Homo sapiens: one gene and its partners. The protein of the gene in region 4 purifies or fractionates together with the protein of the main gene of each other region. This does not show direct contact. Each region holds a gene or a part of one and is shown on either strand. Other genes may lie near its edges.

What was found.
Region 1: the proteins of VAPA (region 4) and TTC1 purify together in Homo sapiens (affinity purification with mass spectrometry; 7 studies listed by BioGRID and IntAct, with this or other methods). This does not show direct contact.
Region 2: the proteins of VAPA (region 4) and FAM83G purify together in Homo sapiens (co-immunoprecipitation; 4 studies listed by BioGRID and IntAct, with this or other methods). This does not show direct contact.
Region 3: the proteins of VAPA (region 4) and WDR44 purify together in Homo sapiens (affinity purification with mass spectrometry; 4 studies listed by BioGRID and IntAct, with this or other methods). This does not show direct contact.
Region 5: the proteins of VAPA (region 4) and AKAP11 purify together in Homo sapiens (co-immunoprecipitation; 4 studies listed by BioGRID and IntAct, with this or other methods). This does not show direct contact.
Region 6: the proteins of VAPA (region 4) and RASSF1 purify together in Homo sapiens (co-immunoprecipitation; 4 studies listed by BioGRID and IntAct, with this or other methods). This does not show direct contact.
Region 7: the proteins of VAPA (region 4) and PTPN12 purify together in Homo sapiens (affinity purification with mass spectrometry; 4 studies listed by BioGRID and IntAct, with this or other methods). This does not show direct contact.

Annotation. Positions count from the first base shown.
Region 1 is NC_000005.10:160,047,139-160,050,638, reverse strand, and holds part of TTC1 (tetratricopeptide repeat protein 1), read right to left. Parts: intron 1,126-3,500; coding exon 977-1,125; intron 1-976.
Region 2 is NC_000017.11:19,001,965-19,006,120, forward strand, and holds the start of FAM83G (protein FAM83G), read right to left. Parts: upstream 2,801-4,156; 5' UTR 2,745-2,800; intron 2,206-2,744; 5' UTR 2,078-2,205; coding exon 1,556-2,077; intron 1-1,555. UniProt on the Homo sapiens protein: Substrate for type I BMP receptor kinase involved in regulation of some target genes of the BMP signaling pathway. Also regulates the expression of several non-BMP target genes, suggesting a role in other signaling pathways.
Region 3 is NC_000023.11:118,440,106-118,443,605, forward strand, and holds part of WDR44 (WD repeat-containing protein 44), read left to right. Parts: intron 1-1,262; coding exon 1,263-1,454; intron 1,455-2,138; coding exon 2,139-2,240; intron 2,241-2,459; coding exon 2,460-2,575; intron 2,576-3,454; coding exon 3,455-3,500. UniProt on the Homo sapiens protein: Downstream effector for Rab11 which regulates Rab11 intracellular membrane trafficking functions such as endocytic recycling, intracellular ciliogenesis and protein export.
Region 4 is NC_000018.10:9,934,516-9,938,015, reverse strand, and holds part of VAPA (vesicle-associated membrane protein-associated protein A), read right to left. Parts: intron 1,907-3,500; coding exon 1,803-1,906; intron 1,031-1,802; coding exon 950-1,030; intron 1-949. UniProt on the Homo sapiens protein: Endoplasmic reticulum (ER)-anchored protein that mediates the formation of contact sites between the ER and endosomes via interaction with FFAT motif-containing proteins such as STARD3 or WDR44.
Region 5 is NC_000013.11:42,303,152-42,306,651, forward strand, and holds part of AKAP11 (A-kinase anchor protein 11), read left to right. Parts: coding exon 1-712; intron 713-3,500. UniProt on the Homo sapiens protein: Binds to type II regulatory subunits of protein kinase A and anchors/targets them.
Region 6 is NC_000003.12:50,330,837-50,334,336, forward strand, and holds part of RASSF1 (ras association domain-containing protein 1), read right to left. Parts: intron 1,319-3,500; coding exon 1,214-1,318; intron 1,021-1,213; coding exon 723-1,020; intron 614-722; coding exon 498-613; intron 1-497. UniProt on the Homo sapiens protein: Potential tumor suppressor. Required for death receptor-dependent apoptosis. Mediates activation of STK3/MST2 and STK4/MST1 during Fas-induced apoptosis by preventing their dephosphorylation.
Region 7 is NC_000007.14:77,627,795-77,631,294, reverse strand, and holds part of PTPN12 (tyrosine-protein phosphatase non-receptor type 12), read right to left. Parts: intron 1-3,500. UniProt on the Homo sapiens protein: Dephosphorylates a range of proteins, and thereby regulates cellular signaling cascades. Dephosphorylates cellular tyrosine kinases, such as ERBB2 and PTK2B/PYK2, and thereby regulates signaling via ERBB2 and PTK2B/PYK2.

The DNA of each region.
Region 1 (3,500 bases), on a different chromosome or scaffold from region 4:
AAAAAAAAAAAGTTTTGTTTGGCTCTGTTTCCAGTTCTTAATAGAAAGTCTACACTAAAGGAGGGCATCAATACAAATTTAACAAATAAATATATACAGAAAAAAGTTTGAAAGGATACATATCAGATGTTTACAGTGCTATATTTGTATTTTTAACTTTTTTTTAAATTCATTTGTATTTTTTGTTTTTTTAAGACAGAGTCTCACACTGTCGCCCAGACTGGAGTGCAGTGGCGCAATCTCAGCTCACTGCAACCTCCACCTCCTGGGTTCAAGCGATTCTCCTGCCTCAGCCTCTCGAGTAGCTGGGATTACAGGCATGTGCCACCACACCCAGCTAATTTTGTATTTTTAGTAGAGACAGGGTTTCTCCATGTTGGTCAGGCTGGTCTCGAACTCCCGACCTCAGGTGATCCGCCCTCCTCGGCCTCCCAAAGTGCTGGGAGTACAGGCGTGAGCCACTGCACCCAGCCTGTTGGTTTGTTTTTAAGATACAAAGTCTTACTCTGTTGCCCATGATGGAATGCAGTGATGTAGTCACAGCTCACTGCAGCCTCCAACTCCTGGGCTCAATGATCCTCTCTGTTGCCCAGGCTGCAGTGTAGTGGCATGATCTCAGCTCACTGCAACCTCTGCCTTCTGGGTTCAAGCAATTCTCCTGCCTCCCGAGTAGCTAGGATTACAGATGTGTACGACCACACCCGGCTAATTTTTTGTATTTTTAGAAGAGATGGGGTTTTGTTGTGTTGGCCAGGCTGGTCTCGAGCTCCTGGCCTCAAGTGATCTCTCCTCCTTGGCCTCCTAAAGTGCTGGGATTACAGGCAAGAGCCACTGCGCCTGGCCTCCCATATATCTTGATAAGCTCCTCAAAAGCACAGAAATGGAATTTAATTGTGTCTGAAAGGATTATTTAGGACTCACTGGGTAGCAACACAAAGAATAGAAGGAAAAATATTTTTAAAATTTTAGGTTTTACCATACAAGCTTCTCTTGCTTGATGTATTGATGGATCTTTTTCTAATATAGATTTATAGTCTTCCAGGGCTTCATCTAGCTTGTCCGTCTTCTCATACAACTCTGCTCTCCTCAATATTGCCCTGATATAGCTGGGGTTTAATTGAATTGCTGTAAAAAGAGAAGAAATAATTTTTATCACAAAGAAAAATGGCCTACATATCTTTGGCTATATCAGATTCCTTCATCAATCATCCTCCAAGGATACGAAAGGAAGAGTCATTTGCCAAGTGTATACCTGATGCTGGAAAACTTTTTCTATAAAGAGCAAGATAGTAAAGATTGTAGGCTTTGTGGGTCAGACAGACCATCTGTGTCGCAGCTCCTCAATGATACTATTGTAGCACGAGAGCAGGCACAGATAATATGTAAACAAAAAAGGATAGGTGTGTTCCAATAAACTATTTATGGACACTAAAATTTAAGTTCACATAATTTTCACATTATCATGAAATATTTTGCTTTCCAATGATTTAAAACTGTAAAAACCATTCTTAGCTTTTAGGCTATCAAAAACAGGTGGCAGGCTGGATTTGGCTTGTGGCTGTAGTTTGCCATATCCTGGTCTATACTCCAAGTCCTGGTTTTTGCCTACTTGTCATTTACCCAGTCCAGGACAGGCCAGAACAGAGTTCAAGTGCGCAGTGAAAGAGTGAGAGAGAATTTTTTTTTTTTAGACGGAGTCTCGCTCTGTCACCCAGGCTGGAGTGCAGTGGTGTGATCTTGGCTCACTACAACCACCTCCTCCCAGGTTCAAGCGATTCTCCTACCTCAGCCTCCCACGTAGCTGGGATTACAGGCATGCGCCACCATGCCCGGCTAATTTTTGTATTTTTAGTAGAGATGGGGTTTCATTATGTTGGCCAGGCTAGGTGAGAGAGAATTTGAAGATACAAATTAAAGAGTTAAGGGAAACCAATCTGGTGGCAGACTATCATTCTCTTTTTTCTAGGTCTTGAGTACTAAGATTATATTTCTAGTTAAATCCTCACTGTTCCTTCAACCCTCAAACTACTGCTCCAGCACTATGAGGTGGTTGATGCATAATATCTTTTCCTTTATCCAGCATCAGCTGCCCTTCTAATAATCCTTTGCTATGTTTTGGTTCAACATACTGCATTTCTTCTAATTTCTTCCAAGTTGTTTCTTTTTCTATTAGAAAGCAGTGCTGGCCGGGTGTGGTGGCTCAGGCCCATAATCCCAGCACTTTGGGAGGCCGAGGCAGGCAGGTCAATTGGGGTCAGGACTTTGAGACCGTCAGCCTAGCCAACATGGCGAAACCCCATCACTACTAAAAATACAAAAATTAGCTGGGCGTGGCAGTGTGGGTCTATAATCCCAGCTATTTGGGTGGTTTAGGCATAAGAATCACTTGAACCCAGGAGGCGGAGGTTGCGTGCAGTGAGTGGCGATTGCATCACTGTACTCCAGCCCGGGCAACAGAGAGATAATACTCTGTCCCAAAAAAAAAAAAAAAAAAAAAAAAAAAAAAAAAAAAGCAATGTCTTGGCTCTAGAACTTTTTTCTTTTCTCATAATCTATCCTTAATTTTTAAATTCATGCTTTCTGTGAACATTTATTTAGTACTTAATATATACGTCCAATGTAGTATGTCTCTGGGCTATAGTGGGAAACAAGACAGACACAGTCCTTGTTCTCATGAAGCCTTATGCTATTCTAGTAGGCAAGAACAGACAGGTATATAATTTCAATAGCCATAGTACTATAATGAAAAATAAAACAAGGTCATGGAAATACAAGTGAAGCGAGAAATGAGGTAACTTCAGAAAGTGGTCTCAGAATATGAAGAGGGACTATGTGAGAGAGGCCAGCCATGTGAAAGGCTAAGGAGGAGCGTGCCAGGAAGAGGGACCAACAAGAATAACTCTGGCATGTGAGTTATCAGGCTGGGGATCAGAGGCTGAAATGTAGGGCCATGGAGGACCTTCCTGGCCAGGGAAAGGAGTTTGGACTTTTTCCTCAGTGTGATGAGAAGCCACTGGAAAGTTTTCAAGCAAGCTTCAGACATACTCTGATTTACATTTTTGAAGGACTGCTTTGGCTGTAGTGTTGGCGGGTGGGGCAAGACTGAAAGCTGTGAGATCAGCTGGAAAGCTAATGCAGTGGTCCAGATGAGAGAAGATGTTGGCTTGGTCTAAGCTGGAAGTAGTAGAGATGGAAAACAGCAGCCGGATTACATTAAATATGTCTTTAAATTTGAGCCCATGGAACTTGCTAATTAATCAATTAGCCATGTGACACGAAAGAACAATCAGGGATGACTCCAAAGGTTTAACTTAAGCAAGGGGACAGATGGTAATGTCATTTATTAGAATGGAAAAAACTAACTGCAAGTTTTGTGTGTGTGTGGGGGCTGGGCACGTTAAATCTGAGGTGCCTACCAGACATCCAAGAAGAAAGAACTTTGCAGTGGGATACAGGACACTAGACTACAGGGTAGAAGTCAGAGTTGAAGACAGAAACTC
Region 2 (4,156 bases), on a different chromosome or scaffold from region 4:
GGGATCCCAGCAGGCTCTCTGTGGGGACTGGGTTCTCTAGCCTCCAGCCAGTCATCCCCATCAGGCACAGACATCAGCAGCACTTCCTCCACACCACAGCAGGTGTGGGGCGGGTCTCTCAGTCTGCAAACTATGAAGGTCCCTTCCTCCTCCCCCTCCTCCTCCTCTTCCTCTAACTCCTTCCTTACTTTTGTCACCCGATATTCCATCTTCACAATAGCCAAAGATGCAGCTTTTATCCACACCACCTCCATCTTATAGATCAGAAACCCGAAGCCTCAAAGCTGCCCAGGGTCAGTCAGTGAATTGAGAGCAGCCAGGCCAGGGGCCAGGCGCCCCCACCCAGCTAGCTGACCCAACTGGTCCCCTTGTTGGGCAGGGACTCCACCTTCCTGGAAACTGGGGCCAGGGCCAGGGGCCACCTCACCAGTTCTTGACCCACGTCTGGTTTCTCTGCCCACGAACTTCCCCAAGGCCCTGTCAGTTAGCCAGGATGGTCCCCGAAGCCAGCATTCTGGTCTTCTGCAATTGGCTGCCCTGCTCTGGGACTGGAAGTATAAAGGGATTAGACCCAGCTAGGAACACCTCATCCCACAACCTGAGGCCCAGACCTGGCTTCAGAATCCTTCTCAACACAGCTCACTAGGTAAGCTTTATCTATCAAATTAAGATGTGCTTGGAAACGATGAGAAGGTACTTACGTGCAGCAGGCATTAGCACCTGCTCATGGTCACAACTGTCCAGCAGTGGCCTAGCTGTCTCTGCAAATGGCAAGCACCCCTTCTCAGAATGTGTGACGGTGTGTCAGCCAAGAATGGCCCCCCACAGCTAGGGCACTGCATAGCCCAACAGGGGTGGAGAAGGGGAGGGCCAGAGAAGGCTTGAGGTCCCTTCCGGTGGCAAAATTCAGGTGGACAATGCTCAGGTGGACTCACTCCACTTCCACAGATGAGGACCACACCTCCCTCACCCAAGCATCCTGGCCTGGAAAGTTTCCACCATTGCAAAGCTCACAAAGAGGCTCAGAGAGGGTGTGCAATCTGCTCCCAGTTGCTCAGCACAGCTAGGAAACAGGCAGTGTTGAACAAGGACCTCCAGGCCAGTCTCAGATGGACTTGGACCATGCCTATTCCCTCACCCCACAACAAAAGCTCTCCCCACCAGAGAGCTCATGGTGTGTGCGCGCCTTTACAGTGAATCAGAGCCACTCTAAGGGAGAGTGAGAGGAAGCCCTGGGGTTCCTCCCCTCCCCACTCCACCCTATCTCGGTGCCTTCTTCTGGGGAACCAGAAACACCCTCCAACAATAAAGAGGCCCTTTGAGACGGGGCAGCCCACTGTCACCTGCTAGGACCTGGGAACCCTACCCTGCAAAGAAACTGCGGATCCCCACGAAGGTGGGGAGGAAACCTCCACCCAAGAGGCAGCCAGGGAAAACAGCAGAGATCCCTAGAAGCCCATGTTGGGCTCCCGTTTTGGGCTCTGAGTGAGCCTGTATTGAGAGGGGTCCGGTGGCTGGTTGGGCCATGGCTCCAGGAGTCCCCGCGCTGCCTCACCTTCTGTGCCTGGCTGATCATCTTCCGCACCACCTCTTTGATGTGGGCCTGCCCGTCTATGGGGGGCTGCATGTAGACGCTAGCCCGGGTCACGCCGCGGTAGGCGATGGTGTCGGGCCAGCCCAGGTCCAGCTGCGGGATGGAGCGGTCCGACTTCTGGGGCCAGTACTCCAGGGAGGGCAGCGGCTCGGCCTCGATGGGGACCCCATCCGCCCCGCTGGCTTCCTCGCCGTCGCCGACCCCATTGTCCTCGGGCCCCTGAGAGGGGCCCGTGCCCCGAGGGTCCTCAGAGCCCGGGTCGTACACCTCGATGGTCTCCAGGATGCGCTTGAGCTCCAGCTCCGAGAGGAAGTCTCGGATGTTCTCCCGCTTGAGCACCTCGTAGAAGGCGTCCCGGCCGCGGGCCACCAGGGCCTCCAGCGCCAGCCGCTGCTCCTCGCTGTAGAAGAACTCAGGCTTGGACTCGCTGGAGCGCCAGTTCACATGGTTGTCGTCCAGACACTGCACCTGAGAGAAGGCCATGGCGCCGCCTGCCCGGGCACTGCTGCCGGGGGTGGGTGGGCAAGGTCCAGCTCCTAGCTCCGGCCCAGCTGGGGCACCGCGCGCTCGGGGGCCTCTCCGCGGCCTCTGCTTCTCTGCCCATGAGCAATCTGCGGGAAAGACCTGATGAGCCCGGCTCGGCGGGGAGGGCGGGCCGCGCGGGGAGGGGCGGCGGGGGCGGGGCCGGGAACTCAGGTGGGCGTGGGAAGGACGGGGCTGGGGCTGGGGCTGGGAAGATGAGGTGGGGGCACTGGACTGGGATGGGAAGAAAGTAAGGGATCGGAACAGCGGTGAGGGAGCGGTGGGCCACGTCCCAGGGCTCAGCGTGCCTCTACGTGCAGGGAACCCATATCCCAGATTTCCGGAGCTGCCTGAAGTCCTCGCAACTTCTGAGGGAAACTAGGGCAGCCGGGGAACTTCCCAGTAGCTTCTTAGAGTGGGAGGCGGCCCCGGCACAGAGGCGCCCCGCAAACCGAGGGCTTCCGGGTAAGGGAGGGGTCTTAAAATTTCCGGGTGCCGGCAACCCAGGAGGCCTGCCCGGAGGAGGCTGGGGCTCTGGGAGGGGTCCAGGAGACCCAGAAACGCGGTTGCGGGGCGGCGACGCCCCGCGAGACCCGGGATCCGGGGGGCGCGGCCGGGACTTGCTTACCGAGCGGGCGCTGGCGGAGCGGGGCGCACACGCGGCGGCTGCGGCGGCGGCGCGAGGCTGGGCGGGGGCGCGCCGGTGACTCAGGGCCGCCCCGCTTACCCCGCCGCCGCCACCTGCGGTCACGTGCCGCCCGGGGCGGGGCCGGAAGCTGATTCACCCCTCGACAGACAGACAGACCTGGGGCGGACGCACTGCCCACGGTCCCCTGGTGCCCGAATTCCGAAAATATCAGAGGCCTAAGCCCAAGAGCTCCTGGAACACCCATCCCAGAGAGGGACAGTGTTCTCCCTGAGGTCACACAGCGGGTCAACAGCCTTGGCACCCCCCTGTGCCCCCAGGGTCTGTTGGTGATCCTGGATCAACCCTGGCTGTGCCCAGTTTCGCCGGCGTGGCGGGAAGTCCGTGCGGCTGTATAGATACCCAGCTGTCCAGTTGTGGAAACAGGTCTAGGGTACTGGGCTGGGAGCCCCCAGGCAGGGATAGGGCACTGACTGACCCAAACTCAGGGCTTTCCTGAGCAGATACCCAGTTCTCAGTCCTAAGCCCTGATCCCCTCTGGGAGGGGTCCCCGGACTGCTTCTGCGTGGCGGGCAGCACCCGACCTGAACCCTAGGGCAGGGAGGGGCCAAGAGGGCCGCTGTGGGCTGGGGTCAGGCCCAGCTCTCTGCTGAGCGTCCCCTGGGGTTGGGACCCTGGTTATGGGGAGCGTGGAGACCACATCTGAAGGCAGGCTTTGAGGGTGGGACAGCAAAGCCCATTAAATCTGGCCCAACAAACAGCCCCCACCCCATCGCGTGCCGCAGCCAGTCTGCCCGGCACCAGGCCCAGCCCTTCCTCCCATCCCCCATACTTGCTCTGGATCTGGATGGGGCTGGTTTGGGTCCCGTAAGGATGCTGCTTCCGTAGGCTGGTGACATCTCTAGGCCTTGTGCCCTCAAACCCCCCCCCTCCAAGGCCTTCTCCACCATTCATGGCCCATCAGGACTCCTTGCCTCTGAGTCCACTGCCCTGGGCAATGACTAGCCTCCTAGGCCCAGCATCCTTGTGGTCCCCATCACTGACCCCTCAAGCATGAAGTCCTACACTCTGCCATATAGCCCCCCAAGGGCTTTATGCTACTGAACATAGTGGCCCCTGGGGAACAGGCACACATATTTGCATCCTCCTCCTGCCCCAGGGCCAGAGAGGGGAGGTGATCCCAGCGGGGGAGCCCTGCCTTGAGGGTCCTGAAGACCCATTTATAGCCCCTCTGCTACTGTGGATCCCCTGTAAGACCTTCTCTGAGCCGCCTCAGCTTCTCCCTGTGTTCTTACCAATGCACAGAGGCTGGAGAGTTCAGGAAGGGAGTCCAAGGCCTCACTCCCACCTCCACCACCCCAACACTTCTGCAGTTGATGAGCAGGAAGGTTGTA
Region 3 (3,500 bases), on a different chromosome or scaffold from region 4:
TGAGACCCCATCACCAAAAAAAAAAAAAAAGAAAGAAAGAAAGAAAAATTCTTATGTTGCCAAAAACAAAACAAGCTTAGTGGTAGGACTGATTTAGTTTAAAGGAGATTTCTCAATCCTAGTACTATTGACATTCTTTGTTACACGGGGGAGAGTAGGCTGTGCGTTATAGGATATTTAGCAGCATCCCTGGTCTCTACACACTAAATACTGGTAGCATCCTGATCCTCCCACCAGTTTTGACAACCAAAATGTCTCCAGATAATGCTAGATGTCCCCTGCAAGGTCAGATTGCCGCAGGTTGAGAACCGCTGATTTGAGAGCAGAATTTGAATGATGAAGTAATTCTCTGTTGACATGGTGTTAGAGTTCCAAAAATGACTGGTTTTGGGGGCCACTAACTGATGTTACTCTTTATCCAAGTGTTACATGTATCCCAGAGGAAGGTATGATATAGGATAGTGTTTCCCATAGCATGTTCCTGAAAGGTCTAGCACCTCCCGTAAACACGCCCCCCCAAAAAAAGTCTGTGGTTAAATATGTTGAAAAGTGCTACCTACTTTATCCTGTTTGGAGATTCAAAATGCAGGTTAACTGAGAATCATGTTTAACTTTTTGTAACCCAGAATTTCTCAAACTTATTTGATCACAGAACCTTCTTCCATGCAATACACACTCAAACACTTTATCTATTGACATCCATATCTTGCAAAACAGCAGTTTAAGGATATGATAATTAGAATTTTATTTCTCCAAAGTGAATAGTGAGGTTTCTTATTGTTGTTACTGCTTTCAGTGCATAAAATAATGCTTGCTTAAAGAATAAAAATTTTTAAATGAAATCTTTTTTTTTTTTTTTTTTTTTTTTTTTTTGAGACGGAGTCTCACTCTGTTGCCAGGCTGGAGTACAGTGGTGCGATCTTGGCTCACTGCAACCTCCACCTCCTGGGTTCAAGCGATTCTCCTGCCTCAGCCTCCCGAGTAGCTGGGACTACAGCCGCGCACCACCATGCCCAGCTAATTTTTATATTTTTACTAGAGACGAGGTTTCACCATATTGGCCAGGATAGTGTCGATCTCTTGACCTTGTGATCCACTGCCTTGGCCTCCCCCAAAGTGCTAGGATTATAGGCGTGAGCCACCGCACCTGGCCCTGAAATCTACATTTTTAAACTATTCTAATAGACTTACTGATTTGATTTGCTAATGAGTTTTTTCTTGATGTGGTAAAATGAAAACTTTCTCTGTTGCCACCTCTTTAGGATGACAGGTATTTTCTAAGTGGGTCTTTGGATGGAAAGCTCCGCCTTTGGAACATACCTGACAAAAAAGTGGCTTTGTGGAATGAAGTAGATGGTCAGACAAAATTGATCACAGCTGCAAATTTCTGTCAGAATGGCAAATATGCAGTGATTGGGACATATGATGGCAGATGTATTTTCTATGATACAGAGGTAAATGATTGTTTTTTGTAAATTATATAATTGTATACTTAGTAAACACTTTCATGGTTTTGGACAAGTTGCTTATCCCCTCTGGGCTTTAACTGCATTTTCTCTAAATAGAGACAAATAATACCATGTCTGTCTTAAGAGTTGGAACAGATGACTTTTGAGATGTCTTCTAATTCTAATTTAAAAAAAATTTTTTTTTGAGATGGAGTCTCACTCTGTTGCCCAGGATGGAGTGCAGTGGAGCGATCTCGGCTCACTACAACCTCTACCTCCTGGATTCAAGTGATTCTTGTGCCTCAGCCTCCTGAGTAGCTGGGACTATAGGCACGTGCCACCACACTCAGCTAATTTTTGTATTTTTTGGTAGAGATGGGATTTCAACGTGTTGGCCAGGCTGGTCTCGAACTCCTGACTTCAAGTGATTAACCTGCCTCAGCCTACCAAAGTGCTGGGATTATAGGCGTGAGCCACCACGCCCAAGCAAAAAGAATTTTTTTATAGAGACAAAGTCTCATTCTGTCACCCAAGTTAGAGCGTAGTGGTGCAATTGTTGCTCACTACAGCCTCGAACTCTTGGGCTCAAGCAGTCCTCCTGCCTCAGCCTCCTGAGTAGCTAGAGTTACAGATACGAGCCACCACACATGCTCCTAATTCTAATATGTTAAATGTATGGTTTATTTTTAGCATTTGAAATACCATACACAAATACATGTCCGATCTACTAGAGGGCGCAACAAGGTTGGAAGAAAAATTACTGGCATTGAGCCTTTACCTGGAGAAAATAAGGTACTACAGTATTCAAAACCATCTCTCTCCATACTATATGTAGATTCTTGAAAGTTCTTAATATCTTGGCAAAAAAATGTATTCTCTTTGTTGTGGAATACCGCTTTTCTTCTAGTTTTGAGGTATATTAGTTTGTATGTGTGTAACACCCTTTTTGGGTTGTAGCTTAGCTTGTACTAAAAGATGATATTTTTAACTTTTCATTTGATCTACTTTTAGATATTGGTAACCTCAAATGACTCCAGAATCAGACTATATGATTTGAGAGATTTGTCACTATCCATGAAGTATAAGGGTTACGTCAATAGCAGCAGCCAGATCAAAGCAAGTTTCAGGTAAATTGGCAATGAGATGTTCCCAAAAGAGATCAGGACATTTCTCCCCTAGTTCCATTTTTCCATTGGTCTATGCCTTATGTTTAATGGGGTTCTTTTCACTTTTGCAAGTAGTAGTTTATTATCATGCAATACGTACCTTGTCCACCTATATAGTATATAGAATTCGAATTGACCCTGTTCTGCAAATGAAGAAACCAAGACTCAGAAAATTAAGTGATTGGCCTAAAGTCATGGTTGTAGAGCCAAGATTATGAAGACTCTCATCTCTAGAGTTTTTGCTTTTGTACCTTTGTTTACGCTTTTAAGAGGGGGCTTACGGCTCATCCCGCCACTCCCCTCCCTGCCCCATTGTCTTGAACCTTTTAGGAAAGGAAGGAACCTTTTAGGATTCTAAGAAAGCATTTTAACACCCCACAGCACAGGGTCTTGTATTCAAAACTTTACATATCATTATTATTTAAATTTCTAATTTGGGTTCTGGACACTCTCCTGAAATAGGGTTAGCTACCTTTTCTTCTTTCTAGCCCTCTTCTTTTGCCGTTTTCTTACCAGTTCTTTTTTCTTGAATTATACATTAATTAATTCAATTGGTAAAGTATTCTGCTCCTGTCTTTCACACCTTAAATCATCATTCCTCCCAACGTGGATTAACTAACATCACAGTTACTTAGAGCTTTGATGCAAATACAAGTGCCAGGCCACTACATCACACGTACACATTTAGAACATCTAGAGTGAGACCATGGGTCTACATATTCAACAAGACCCTTCAAGTGTTATTTTAGGTATCACAAAGTAGGAAGCACTGATAAAGGAAACCTTTAAACATATACACACACACATTTTATTTGCTTTTCCTTTCTCCCCAAAATTCAGCCATGATTTTACTTACCTCGTTAGTGGTTCAGAAGATAAGTATGTT
Region 4 (3,500 bases):
GGCAAATACCTCAAAAATCACTTAAAAGAGGCATTTTAAAAATTCAAAATATAATTTGGTCAACACCTAATTACCAGAGACCTTTTCATTTCTGCTTATCCTGAAAGAGGAACACAATAACTGAGCCCACATATTTAATCTGCATGTTTACTTTTCAATAGAGCAAATGGCCACTAGATTAAGGCAGTAGTCATGTCAGATTGTAACCAAATTGTGCCACACCATTCTATTTATCCATATTATTGTATGTATTAAGTCACATACACACACAGAAAAATTTATCTTTCAAGTCTCTCTCACCATAGGAAAAGATTCAAATTTGCAATCCAGACAGGGAAATGGACAAGGTAAGTGACTACAACCCACTCGGTACATTCACAGACTATTTTTTGTTTGTTTTTGAATAAACAAATACATCCCTCAGTCCCCCAAATTGTATTAGACTTACACTAATGAGTAAGCAACATAATAATTATTTACTAAAGAATACAATCAGATGGATTTGACTAAAAACAAAAGTGAGCAAAATACCTAGGAATAACTAAACCTGGAATAAACTGTCCATGTAAGTGAATTTATCCCCAAACTGCCGGTACATAGTGGCCAAAAAGCAATTTATATGTATTTTTAAATTATGTATACACATCTCATTCTAAAAAAGAACCTGCAGTGGTTTACGTCACAAAAAATCTGGTAGACTTAAATGATTCTTCTCCAGGATGCAGTCTTGACCTAAAAGTGAGTCTTTCTTTCTTCTTGGATAAACAAAATGTTACTTTAAAAAAAAAAAAAAAAAAGGCATACCAAGTTTTTTAAAACTTAACCACTGAGTCTTATGAAGTGTAATAGCCATATCACACATACCTCAAAGGTCAAAAATAAAAGCAAAATTAATCAAAGGAACTGAGAGCTCAACAGCTCCCAATTTTTTTTACATTCTCCTACTTACCAATTTATCATTTTCATTGGGCATTTCAAATACGCATCTCAATTTGGAATCCATTAATTCATCAGGTTTTGCCTCTTTCCACTAAAAATAAACAAAACCAAACATGAGACATAGGAGGTATGATCATGGTAAGTAAGTTTCACCTCACGGGACAGCTAAAAGATGAGTGAAGCTGCCTGGCTTGGCTGAAACACACTGGTGCACTCTTTATTGATCACCCTGCCATTGTTATCGGCTAATGTCACAGAACCTTTATATAATCCTAGTTACTATCACCATCCATTAAAATCACGATGATATTACTAGCAACCATAGGACTTTCTTCTTAGCATTTCTTTCTTTTTTTCCAGTTGGTCTCATTCTGTTTCCCAGGCTGGAGTGCAGTCGCCCCTCCTGGGCTCAAGCAATCAATCCTCCCATGCCTCCTGGGTAGCTGGGACTACAGGCGTCCAACACTATACCCAGCTCATTTTTGTTGTGGTGGTTTTTTTTGTTTTTTGTTTGTTTGTTTGTTTGTTTTTGTAGAGACAGGGTCTTGTCATGTCGCCTGAGCTGGTCTCGAACTCCTGGGCTTGAGATACTCCCATCTTGGCCTCCCAAAGGGCTGGGATTACAGGTGTGAGCCACTGCACCAGGCCAGTAGCAGCATTTCTAAATTGTTTCTAAAAAAAAATACTATTTAAAAATTCTTTCATTCTTTAAGTTAGGATTATCTATAATGAAGAAATTGGCAGTTTTTTAAAAACCTAAATTTAACTTTTAGTTTTTAGAAATTAAGTTTTTCTACTGACTGCTAAACAACACCCACAGTTTAAACTCCACTTCCCAAAACAAATTCTTCTTCTATACTTACCACAGCTTCCATATCTGAAGTGTTTGGTGGAGCAAAAATTGTCTGTACCATAAACTTGTGTTTACTCTTTTCATTCGGATCATAGTCAAAGGGCTGTAGCATTACTAAATAAGAAAAAAAGGATATATTATATTGTCTCCTGCATGTCTGAAAGACATACATTGAAACAGTTACAGATTAAATTATACTAAGTCTGGGATTTGCCTTAAACCGTATCTGGCAATAGTATCATTCCTACTACTTCACAAATATGCAAATTTAAAAAAAACCAAGAAGGGTTCAAGAAACCAAACACTGGAATGTTTAAGAATCAACTTAATGGATCCCAAGTATTTTTAAATTGTCTGTCTTTCTAATTTACTAAGTTTTGCACAACCAACAAAATAAACAATTACAATTAAAAATTAAATATGAATCTATGATTTTGCCCTTTCTAAACTCAGCTTGTGAAAATTTTCAAAACTTTGCCAACGTTAACTATAATGCCTATAAGCTCAGATTAAATATAAGTTATTAAAACTATGAATTTAGGCTTCATTTTAGTGTTTTCTGATTTAAAATTATACAACTGAGATATTTAAAGGAGAAATACTCAGTAACTTAAAACCTCACTACCATCTGTTTTTTGTTTTTTAAAACAGGGTCTCACTCTGTGGCTGAGGCTGCGCTGCAGTGCAGTGGCGCAATCTCAGCTCACTGTAGCCTCAACCTCCCTAGGCTCAGGCAATCCTCCCACTTCAGGCTCCTAAATAGCTAAGACTATAGCCACATGCCACCATGCCCAGCTAATTTTTGTATTTTTTTGTAGAGAAAGGGTTTTCGTCATTTTGCCCAGGCTGGTATAGAATTCCTGGGCTCAAGAGATCCGCCCTCCTCAGCCTCCCGAAGTGCTAGGATTACAGGCGTAAGCCACAGCACCCAGCCCATATATTGTTTTAATATAATTAATTTTTCAAAATTGTATTTTAAATAAACATCTATTTCAGAGTTTATGAATTTATTTAAATCTTCTAAGAAAACAAAAGTACACAAGGAAACCATATAGCCTCTTGAGTTCTAAAATTTATTCTACAGTCTCAATAACATTCAAAATTTTTAAGTTTTTTTTTTTTTTTTTTTGAGACGGAGTCTTGCTCTGTCGCCCAGGCTGGAGTGCAGCGGTACAATCTCGGCTCACTGCAAGCTCTGCCTCCCAGGTTCACGCCATTCTCCTGCCTCAGCCTCCCGAGTAGCTGGGACTACAGGCGCCTGCCACCATGCCCGGCTAATTTTTTTGTATTTTTAGTAGAGACGGGGTTTCACCGTGTTATCCAGGATGGTCTCGATCTCCTGACCTCAAGATCCGCCCGTCTCAGCCTCCCAAAGTGCTGGGATTACAGGCGTGAGCAATTTTTAAGCATTTATAATTTCTCGTCTTTTAAGTTTTCTAAGGTTCCATGTGGTTGTAAGTCATGCTAAATTTATGTAACATGAGTCCAATATAACAGACTATACAAAGAATCAATCAACAGTTACACAAAATATGTACATGGCATTATAGAAATTATTTCCCTAACTTTAGATTATTTCTAAGATATATCTCTACACTTTCAAAAAGATAAACACGGGTAAATAAATGTAAGAAATAATTATGTAATAAAGTCTTATTCATAAGGTGTGTCTGAGAAGTCCATTAACTGCTATCAAGGTTAAGACAAC
Region 5 (3,500 bases), on a different chromosome or scaffold from region 4:
CTAAGGAAGAGTTGACAGCCTCTCTAGTTGGCCTACCAAAATCCTTAACAGATTCTTGCTTGTTTGAAAAATCTGGATATGAAGAAGATAATGAGTGTCACGTTACACCAGAATTGCCTAAGTCTCTTCAGCCTTCCTCACAAAATCACAGGTTTTACCACAGCACTGGCAGTTTAAATGGATATGGTTGTGGAGACAATGTTGTTCAAGCTGTAGAACAGTATGCCAAAAAAGTAGTGGATGACACTCTAGAGCTAACTCTAGGATCTACAGTGTTCCGAGTGTCTGAGACCACAAAATCAGCAGACAGGGTCACTTATGCAGAAAAGTTGTCACCTCTTACAGGTCAAGCTTGCAGATACTGTGACCTTAAAGAACTCCACAATTGCACTGGAAATTCATCTCAGCACTTTTTCAGACAGGGTTCTCTCGCCAGTAGTAAGCCAGCTTCTAATCCAAAATTTAGCAGCCGCTATCAGAAATCTAGGATTTTTCATCTCAGTGTCCCTCAGATTCATGTTAATCTTGATAAGAAGGCAGTGCTTGCTGAGAAGATAGTTGCTGAAGCCATTGAAAAAGCTGAGCGAGAGCTGAGCAGTACCAGCCTGGCAGCCGACAGTGGGATCGGACAGGAGGGTGCCAGCTTTGCTGAAAGCCTTGCCACAGAAACCATGACAGCAGCTGTCACAAATGTTGGGCATGCTGTTAGCAGGTAAGTTTCACGTTTCTTTTGGTTGTTAATGATAAATTAAAAAGATAAATGTGATCCTATATGTCTTAGGTCCTGTTCATAAAGGAATGATTATTTTTAACCCTACATAAACAAAAGTTTTCCCTGTTGCATTTATGTATTGTTTCATATCCTACACATGACTTTAATATATTTTGGTCTCCTGATCCCTTTTGAGGGAAGGTGTTATCCATTTACAGAGCTGGAAAATGAGGGTTGGAGAAAATAATCACCTTATCCAAGTTCATAGAGCTATGAAATAGGTAAAGTTGAATTAAATAAATAGCTAGAGAATTTTATATAGTAGTCCCCCCTTATTCTCAATTTTGCTTTCCTCAATCTGAAAATGTTAAATGGAAAATTCCAGAAATAAGCGATTCGTAAGTTTTAAGTTGCATGTTCTGAGTAGCATGATGAAGTCTCACACCATCTCACTCAGGATGTGAATTACCCCTTTATCCAGTTTATCCATACTACATGTGCTGTTCACCTGTTAGTCACTTAGAAGGTATCTCAGTTATCAGGTCCACAAACCTGGTATGTACAGGGCTTGATGCTATCTGCAGTTTCAGACATCCACTGGGTGTCTTAGATCATATCCCCCATGGATAAGGGGGGACTATTCTATAGTAAATGTAGAATATTACTATATTAATTTACTATTCTGAGATTAAATTTTTGTACACCTTTCTTCATTCACAAGGGTAAGTTTTCTTATAAAGACCATGGTTAAACTACTCTGAAGAAGAAAGTGAAAATTCTTTACATACTTACACCATTTCTCTTGATTGGTTCACAATCTAAGAGGACAGTTCTTTCTGGTAGTCCTACAGTGTCCTGTTTTTCAGTAGCTATCTCTTGTGCTCAGTGATTCTTTTTTTTTTTTTGAGATGGAGTCTCGCACTGTTGCCCAGGCTGGAGTGCAGTGGCACAATCTCAGCTCACTGCAACCTTTGCCTCCCGGGTTCAAGCGATTCCTGTGCCTCAGCCTCCCTAGTAGCTGGGATTACAGGCACCCACCACCACGCCCAGCTAATTTTTGTATTTTTAGTAGAGACAGGGTTTCACCAAGTTGGCCAGGCTGGTCTTGAACTCCTGACCTTAGGTGATCTGCCCACCTCAGCTTCCCAAAGTGCTGGGATCACAGGCGTGAGCCACCGCAACCAGCCATGCTCAGTGATTCTTTAATAACAACTTAGTTACAGTTTTTCAGTTTAAACCTTCTTTGTCCCTGAGAAGATATCAGGACCAACTTGTGTTATTAGTTGATAGGATGATATTTGTAAGTCCTGCTTGAAAGAGAAAATGCTTTAAGTTGAGGTGGAATTTAATTGAGTCACATGATATTCCAGATTTTTGAGTAGCTTCTGTTAAAGCCATGACATGGTCTGCCTCTTTTCTTATCCATCTTAAAATAGGGAGATATAGCTTGGCCAGGATTCTTGAATCCAATTGCTCCATAGCGTCTACTTGAGATGAGAGATGATGTAGGTTTCTGGTGAACTAGGAGAGGTCTCTATTTGCCCTAATCAGGCAGCCTTCTTTCTCCTAGACCAGGGGTTGGCAAACTACAGTCTGTGGGCCAATGTGGCCTACTGGTTGTTTTTGTATGGACTGCAAGCTAAGAACAGATTTCATGTTTTTTTTTAATGGTTGAAAAAAATCAAATGATATTTTGTGATGTGGAAATTATATGAAATTCAAATTTCAGTATTTATAAATAAAGTTTTATTGGGACACCACCATGCTCATTCAATTACACATTTCTGTGGCTGCCTTTGTGCTATAATGGCAGAGTTGAGTAGTTGGGACAGAGGCTGTATGACCAGCAGTGCCTATGTACTTCCTGTTTGGCCTGTATTAGTTCATTTTCACACTGCTATAAAGATACCACCTGAGACTGAGTAATTTATAAACAAAGGAGGTTTAATTGACTCACAGTTCTGCATGGCTGGGAAAGCCTCAGGAGACTTACAGTCATGGCACAAGGCAAAGGGGAAGCAAGTGTTTTCTTCACAAGGCAGCAGGAGAGAGAGAGAAGGGGGAGCTGCCAGACACTTTTAAAACCATCAGCTCTCATGAGAACTCCCTCACTGTCATGAGAACAGCATGGAGGAAGCCGCCCTCATGATCCAATCACCTCCCACCAGGTCCCTCCCTGGGGGTTACAATTTGAGATGAGATTTGGGTAGGGACATAGAGCCAAACCATATCATGGCCTCTTACAGAAAACAATTGCGAACCTCTGTCCTAGATCCACATTTTCGTTTTCACTACATACCAGTTCCTAGTATGATAATAAACATAATAAATTGTTAATAAATATTCTCATGAATAGGTAATAAATTAGGCCTTTTTACAATTGAAATAATTTTCCTCATACAGGTTGCTTCAGGCTATTTTACTTTTTACTCCTCCTCAGTTCAGTCCTGTCTGCCCTACGGACCCATCCATCCCCCTTTCCTCCCACCCTCATGGGAAGAAAAGAGACTGTCCTCTAAAGTTTTTAAGACATCACTCTCAGGGGCTAGCAAATGCCTTTGTTATTGATTTTCTCAGTAATTTCCACTTTTCCTTCTTAGAGTTGGGTGAGTAGATAGCCCCTAAAGTTCTTCCTGTAAGCCAGTGCTGTCCAATTTCAGCTTTTTATTAAGGCTGGAGTAATTATTTTCCTGCTTCTCTTCTTAATAATTGTGCTAGGGTTCTGTAAATACTGACTAAGGAAAGCTGACTCTAGTGTGTAGAGTTTACGTTTAACATTTTTTATTTC
Region 6 (3,500 bases), on a different chromosome or scaffold from region 4:
TTCTGATGTCAGGCTCTTGGCTGAATGATCTCTGGTAGGATCCCTGACAGCAGTTTGTATGGAAGATGGGCCCTACAAAACGGTCACCTTACTGAGACAACCAAGTCAGATGTTCCCCAATTACCTGTGGACAGGTCAGGCATATTCTGAGTCTAATTTCACTCCACAGGCCTAATACCTTGGAGCCAGAAAGCTTCCAGGTAAAAAGTCTGAAGGGGGCCTCCTCATGTCATTAGATGGACTCCTGCATCTCCAGAAGATTTTCCACACCAGGAAAGATCAAAGCACCAAGGCAATTCTTCCTGGCTTCTTGGGACAACCCTAGGCTTTGGCATGAGTGGTCTGGAAGCCTTTGCTTTAGTTACAATGCCTATACACTCCTGGAACTGTTTTGCAGGGCTTGTCTTCCAGCACAATTCCTCCTCCAAGCCTTACTGTAGCTACAGCCCATCAGTCCTGTCTAGTGACAACCAAGAAACTAAGAACTATGTACTCACGTTCACCTCCCCAGAGTCATTTTCCTTCAGGACAAAGCTCAGGGCCTTGTCACTGGGCCCTGCCAGGAGCCGCAGCCGCAGGGGCTGCTCATCATCCAACAGCTTCCGCAAGTACACTGTGAAGGGGAAGTAATGATCAGAGACAGGGCCAGCTGCTCAGCCCCTGCATGCTCAGGTGCATGCGTATATACCCTCACATAGGGCAGGGTGGGGTGGGAAGCCCACCTTGGCCGTGACGCTCAGCGCGCTCAAAGAGTGCAAACTTGCGGGGGTCATCCACCACCAAGAACTTTCGCAGCAGGGCCTCAATGACTTCACGTGCCCTTGTGCGTGACAGCACATGCAGGTGCTTGACAGCATCCTTGGGCAGGTAAAAGGAAGTGCGGCGCCTGACACTTGTGCCCCGTCCTGGGCCCCGCCGGGCATCCTGCAAGGAGGGTGGCTTCTTGCTGGAGGGCACAGAGACAGGGCGCACCAGCTTCAGCTGAACCTTGATGAAGCCTGTGTAAGAACCGTCCTTGTTCTAAAGAAATAGAGAAACCAAACCTTGATAATAGGTTCCAGGTGAGATGTCAGTCTACTTGGGGCTAGGCTGGGTATGCACAAATTACTGCTTGCGCCCACCCAAGATAACCTCAGTTGTGACCCTCTGAGTATCAGGCACATAGCTGGGTACCTGCTCCTCCCCACGCCCCCTTCCTGAGCAGTCAACTCACCAAGCTCATGAAGAGGTTGCTGTTGATCTGGGCATTGTACTCCTTGATCTTCTGCTCAATCTCAGCTTGAGAAAGGTCAGGTGTCTCCCACTCCACAGGCTCGTCCTGCAAGATGGGCCAGCATGGACACAGGGCCCTTGAGGAACCCAGGGCTTCTCTGAAAAATGGCCTCTGGGGCAGTCTTTGGAAACTGACTGCCTTTGGCCCCCTGTCCCTGATGTACATATACATAGCTGGTGCCCACCCTGAACCCACCACTGCTCCTGGTTTTGCATGCTCTGGGTGGATAAGGGAAAGACAGAATCATTTGGCTTCTCTCTGCTGCCTGCCTAGGGCCTCAGCACTGAATGTAGCCTTAAGGATACCACAGAAGCAGGGGCAACTGAAGGCACATGGCCAGGGGCCAGGAACAGCTGAGGGACTCTGAAGAGGGACTCTCATTTAAAGTAAAATCAGGCTGGGTGTGGTGGCTCACATCTGCAATCCCAGCATTTTGGGAGGCTAAGGTAGGAGGATCACTTGATCCTCAGGAGTTTGAGACCAGCTTGGGCAACATAGCAAGACCTCATCTCTACTAAAAAAAGAAAAAAAAAAATTAGCCAGGTGTGGTGGTGTGCCTGTAGTCCCAACTGTTCAGGAGGCTGAGGTGGGAGGATCGTTTGAGCCCGGGAGATTGCAGCTACAGTAAGCTATTATCGTGTCACTGCACTCCAGCCTGGGGAACTGAGTGAGACCCTGCTTCAAAACACAAAAAACAAAAACAGGCTGGGCACGTTGGCTCACGCCTGTAATTCTAGCACTTTGGGAGGCCGAGGCGGGTGGATCACCTGAGGTCAGGAGTTTGAGACCAGCCTGACCAACATGGAGAAACCCCGTCTCTACTAAAAATACAAAATTAGCCAGGCGTGGTGGCACATGCCTGTAATCCCAGCTACTTAGGAGGCTGAGGCAGGAGAATTGCTCAAACTCGGGAGGTGGAGGTTGCAGTGAACTGAGATCGTGCCATCGCACTCCAGCCTGGGCAACAAGAGCGAAACTCGGTCTCAAAAAAAAAAAAAATCAGTAAAATCACACCTCAATTGCACATTCTGATCACAGCACCCTAGTTGAGTTGGAGTGAGGGTTTGTCCTGGAGAAGGCAGCCCATTTTTCTCCTCTGCCCCGGCACGGGGCCATGACCCACTGCAGGGTGAGAGGAGTGGAGAGTGGTGCACATCAGTAGTCCAGCCACCAGTGGACAGAGTAGTACTTGGAGCCAGTTCTCCATGTCTCACACATAGTGAGAAAAATCACTGTGACATGATGTTTAACCTTGACCCAAGCTGCATAAAAGGCAGCTTTAGGCCAGGCTCCAATCTGCCAGAGGTACACAGGCAGCTTCCTGGTGGGTTTCTGCACCTGCCTGTGCTGTCTGGAGATTTGGCCCAAAGATTTTTTTTTTTTTTGAGACGAAGCCTCACTCTGTCGCCCAGGCTGTAGTGCAGTGGCTGGATCTTGGCTCACTGCAAGTTCTGCCTCCTGGGTTCAAGCGATTCTCCTGCCTCAGACTCCCGAGTAGCTGGGACTACAGGCGCGTGCCACAACAACACCCGGCTAATTTTTGTATTTTTAGTAGAGATGGGATTTCACCACATTGGCCAGGTTGGTCTTGAACTCCTGACCTCAAGTGATCCGCCTGCCTTCACCTCCCAAAGTGCTGGGATTACAGGCGTGAACCATCGTACCCGACCCAGAGATTTTTAACTCGACCACTCACTCCCCACCTCATCTAGGGACTGGATTCTTGCCGGAAGGGTGGAGTGTGGGACAGGGCAGCCAGGGCTCTGAACCGACTTTCTTCTCCCAGACTCCCTTGGCCCCACTGCATCAGCCTTACTTCCTGTTGACGTCAGATAGGCCCTAGTTAGAATGCGAGTGTCACAGACACAGCTAAGCTCAGCGCTGACCAATACTTTGTCCCAGAAGAATTCCCACAAGGTTTCCTGTAGAATGATCTTGTGCCTAGCCCAGGAGAGCCAGGGTTCTCCCTGACTCCGCCCTGGAGTCCCCTTAAGCACTTAAACCATCTGATGGGGACAAATGGAGAGGACAGATGAGGGAGCAGGGTGGAGCGTTTTAGCAGAATGCTCCTTACCCAGAACCCGCTGCTATTCTGCAGCCAGCAAGGATGTGGGGCTAAGAACTAAGGCCAGGGCCTTACAGGAAAAAGGTAAAGGGGGAGGGGTGGGAATTTAAGCTCATTTTCTTCCCCAAGTATCCAAAGGTCTCCTGGATGGAGAAGAGCACT
Region 7 (3,500 bases), on a different chromosome or scaffold from region 4:
GCAAGAAAATACAGCTTCTGGGTCCTCCTGAAAGAGGAGTTCCAGTCCAATACTTGATACATCTACCAAGAGTACCAGAACTCTCTCTTGCCACTAAAGAACTATCTACCTTATCCAGTAGTGGTAGTCTGAGTCATCACCATATGTCTCCTTGCCCTCTTGCTACTAACAGCGCACAGTGAAGAGATGGCTGTTGGAAGGAAGGGACACATAATCTTGGCATTCTGGTACCATTTCTTAAATTAAATGAACAAAACAAAAAGGGCAGTTCAGCCCTTTTTCTATCAGTTATCTTCCAGAAACTCTGTGCTTTTTCTCTCATGGCAGTTCTCACCCTTAAAAACTTTTATTTTCTAAGCGTGGCCCTTGCTTTGCAAATGCATGTTTCTCCCTGGAACTTTGGGCTGCCTTTCCTGTTAAAAACTTTTGTTTTAGAGGTTATCCAACCAGATATTGCGTATTTTATATAGGCTTTTGCAAATCATACACTGTATGGGGCCTTCTGTAGTTGAATCTGAGAAATCTTTCAGGAGGCCTAAGTCAAGACTGAAATTAGAATTGATAGCTAAGAATTTTTGTCAGGCAGTAACTTATGCAAAAGTTTTTTTTAGGTATCAATACAAAAGTATTCCATTATAGTCATGCACTACATAATGATGTTTTCATCAACAAGACCGCATAAACAACAGCGGTCCTGTAAGATTATGATACCATATTTTTACTGTACCTTTTCTATGTTTAGATACACAAATACTTACCATTGTGTTACAATTGTTGAGTATGGTAATATGCTATACAAGTTTGTAGCCTAGGAGCAAGAGGTTACATTGTATGGCCCAGATGTGTAGTATATACTATACCATCTAGGTTTGTGTAAATACATTCTATGACATTCACACAATGGCAAAACTGCCTAATGACATATTTTTCTTAGAACATATCCCTGCCATTAAGAAATGTGTGACTGTAATTCACTAACAAGTTCTAGGACCAAAAAACCCCCCAAAACTCTAATTCTGGTGCCAATGGCTCTATAAGATAATGATCTACAAAGGAAATAATAATCTATAAGGTAAATAAACAATCTATAAAGTAAATAATCCATATGGTAAATATTTGGCAACACATTAAAAATGAGACTACTTGTAGTTATGCTGCAACAAAGAACATTTACACACAGGAAAATCTTCGGTTAAAATCAAACCAATAACATAGTTAAGGTTGAGTAAAAAGAAACCAGAAATCACATGTATAGTGATTTTTGCTTTGAAATACAAAACCAAACAAACAGAAATGAGCTGGCACATAGTAGGGTGCTTTTAGCTATATCTTACTCTTTTTTTTTTTTTTTTTTTGAGACAGGGTCTCCCTCTGTTGCCCAGGCAGAGTGCCGGGACGCAATTATGGCTCACTGCAGCCTTGAGCTCCTAGGCTCAAGTGATCTTCCTACCTCAGCCTCCAGAGTAGCTGGGACCACAAGTGTGCACCACCATGCCCGGCTAGTTTTTTATCTTTTGTAGAGATTGGGTGTCACTATGTCACCCAGACTGGTTATGAACTCCTGGGCTCAAGTGAACTTCCTGCCTCAGCCTCCCAAAATGCTGGGATTACAGGCATGAGCCACCAACAGACTCGTCATGTAGTAGTAACTTTTAATAAGCATATCACATCATACATCTTTCTGGCCCTCACCAAATCCTATTTCCAGTAATGGTTTTTTGGTTTTTTTTAAAAAAAAAAGCAAAAGAACAAAACAACAACAAAAAAACAATAAAACTTCCTAGGTACAATACCACATGCTTGATATACTAAAAACTCAAAATGAAAATTTCTTATCTACATATTTTCTTATATAGTTACAGCTGGGCAGTTATATTTCAAATTCTGAAGCTGAGGAACAAAAGACATTAGCAATTTAAAATTATGGTAAACTGGTAAAGTAATATTATACTATTCATTATCTTCTAAAGATCCTTCAAATAAAACAAAGATAAATCAAGAAAAGATAATTCTGTAATTTAAGCAAATAGTTTAAGACTGTCACCTGGCTGGGCGTGGTGGCTCACGCCTGTAATCCCAGCCCTTTGGGAGGCCGAGGTGGGCGGATCACGAGGTCAGGAGATCCAGACCATCCTGGCTAACACAGTGAAACCCTGTCTCTACTAAAAATACAAAAAATTAGCCAGGCATGGTGGCGCATGCCTGTATTCCCAACTACTAGGGAGGATGAGGCAGGAGAATTCCTTGAACCCAGGAGGCGGAGGTTGCAGTGAGCCAAGATTGCGCCACTGCACTTCAGCCTGGGCAACAAGAGCAAAACTCTGTCTCAAAAAGACTGTCATCTAGTCTACCAAATACACTCTCTCAAGTTAAAAAATACAGTATGTGTGAGAGAAAATACAAGCACTACAGTATGGGTGGTATATAATGGGTCAGAAATAGAAAATAATCTTTCAAGGCCAGGTGTGGTAGCTCACGTCTGTAATCCCAGCACTTTGGGAGGCCTAGGTGGGCAGATCACTTGAGGCCAGGAATTTGAGACCAGCCTGGCAAACATATCGAAACCCTGTCTCTACTAAAAACATAAAAATTAGCTGGGTGTGGTAGTGGGTGCCTGTAATCCCAGCTACTTGGGAGGCTGAGCCGAGATCTTGCCACTGCACTCTAGCCTGGGTGACAGTGCAAGACTCAAAAAAAAAATCTTTTGAGTGCAAGTCTCAAAAAAAAAAAAAAATCTTTCAAGGTCACAGTACTTATTTTGCCTGCACGTTATAAATACCAGTCTGTATGTGTCACTACCAAAGTTCACTGATAGGTAAGTGACCACTGATAATCAATATATCAATAAACAGCTTTCAAATTTATATGTTTACTCTCAACCTTAGGGTCTGTTTAAGATGGTAGCCATCATTACTTTCAGCAGATCAAAGAGGAGTTTCAAGAAGCAATAATACACTTTGGGAACTGAGTGCATGCATTATCTTGAAATGCTAAGAGTGCTAAAAAAATAATAATTCTTTAAATAATAGCTTTGATGAGTAGGTATGCATATAGCCCACTCACTACTGAATTGAGCAGTTTGCAGTATTGTTCCTGGGTTAAACTCAGGGTTGGAAGCAGCCATATTTGGAAGCATTTGTGAAGACAGTAAAAACAAACAAACAAAAAAATGTAATCTGTAGTTAAAGGAACAGTAAAAAATGACTAAACATTTAGGAAAAACGAGTAACATTATATGGCCAATCAAGACATTCTACAGTATTTTTGCCACTGTTATTTTAAGTGATTCTTCCCTAAATTATTTCTAATTATTCAGTCAGATAAATTTTTGACCGATACAAAAACACTAAGATCTATAATACAGAAGAAAAAGAAAATAAGTTATCCAGTTATAACTACTAAAATAATTTAGAAACACAAAACCCAGTAATATAATGTGACCAAATTGTTAACAATACATTAAAAGCTTATATTAAAAAATTAGTATCTAAGACAGATTT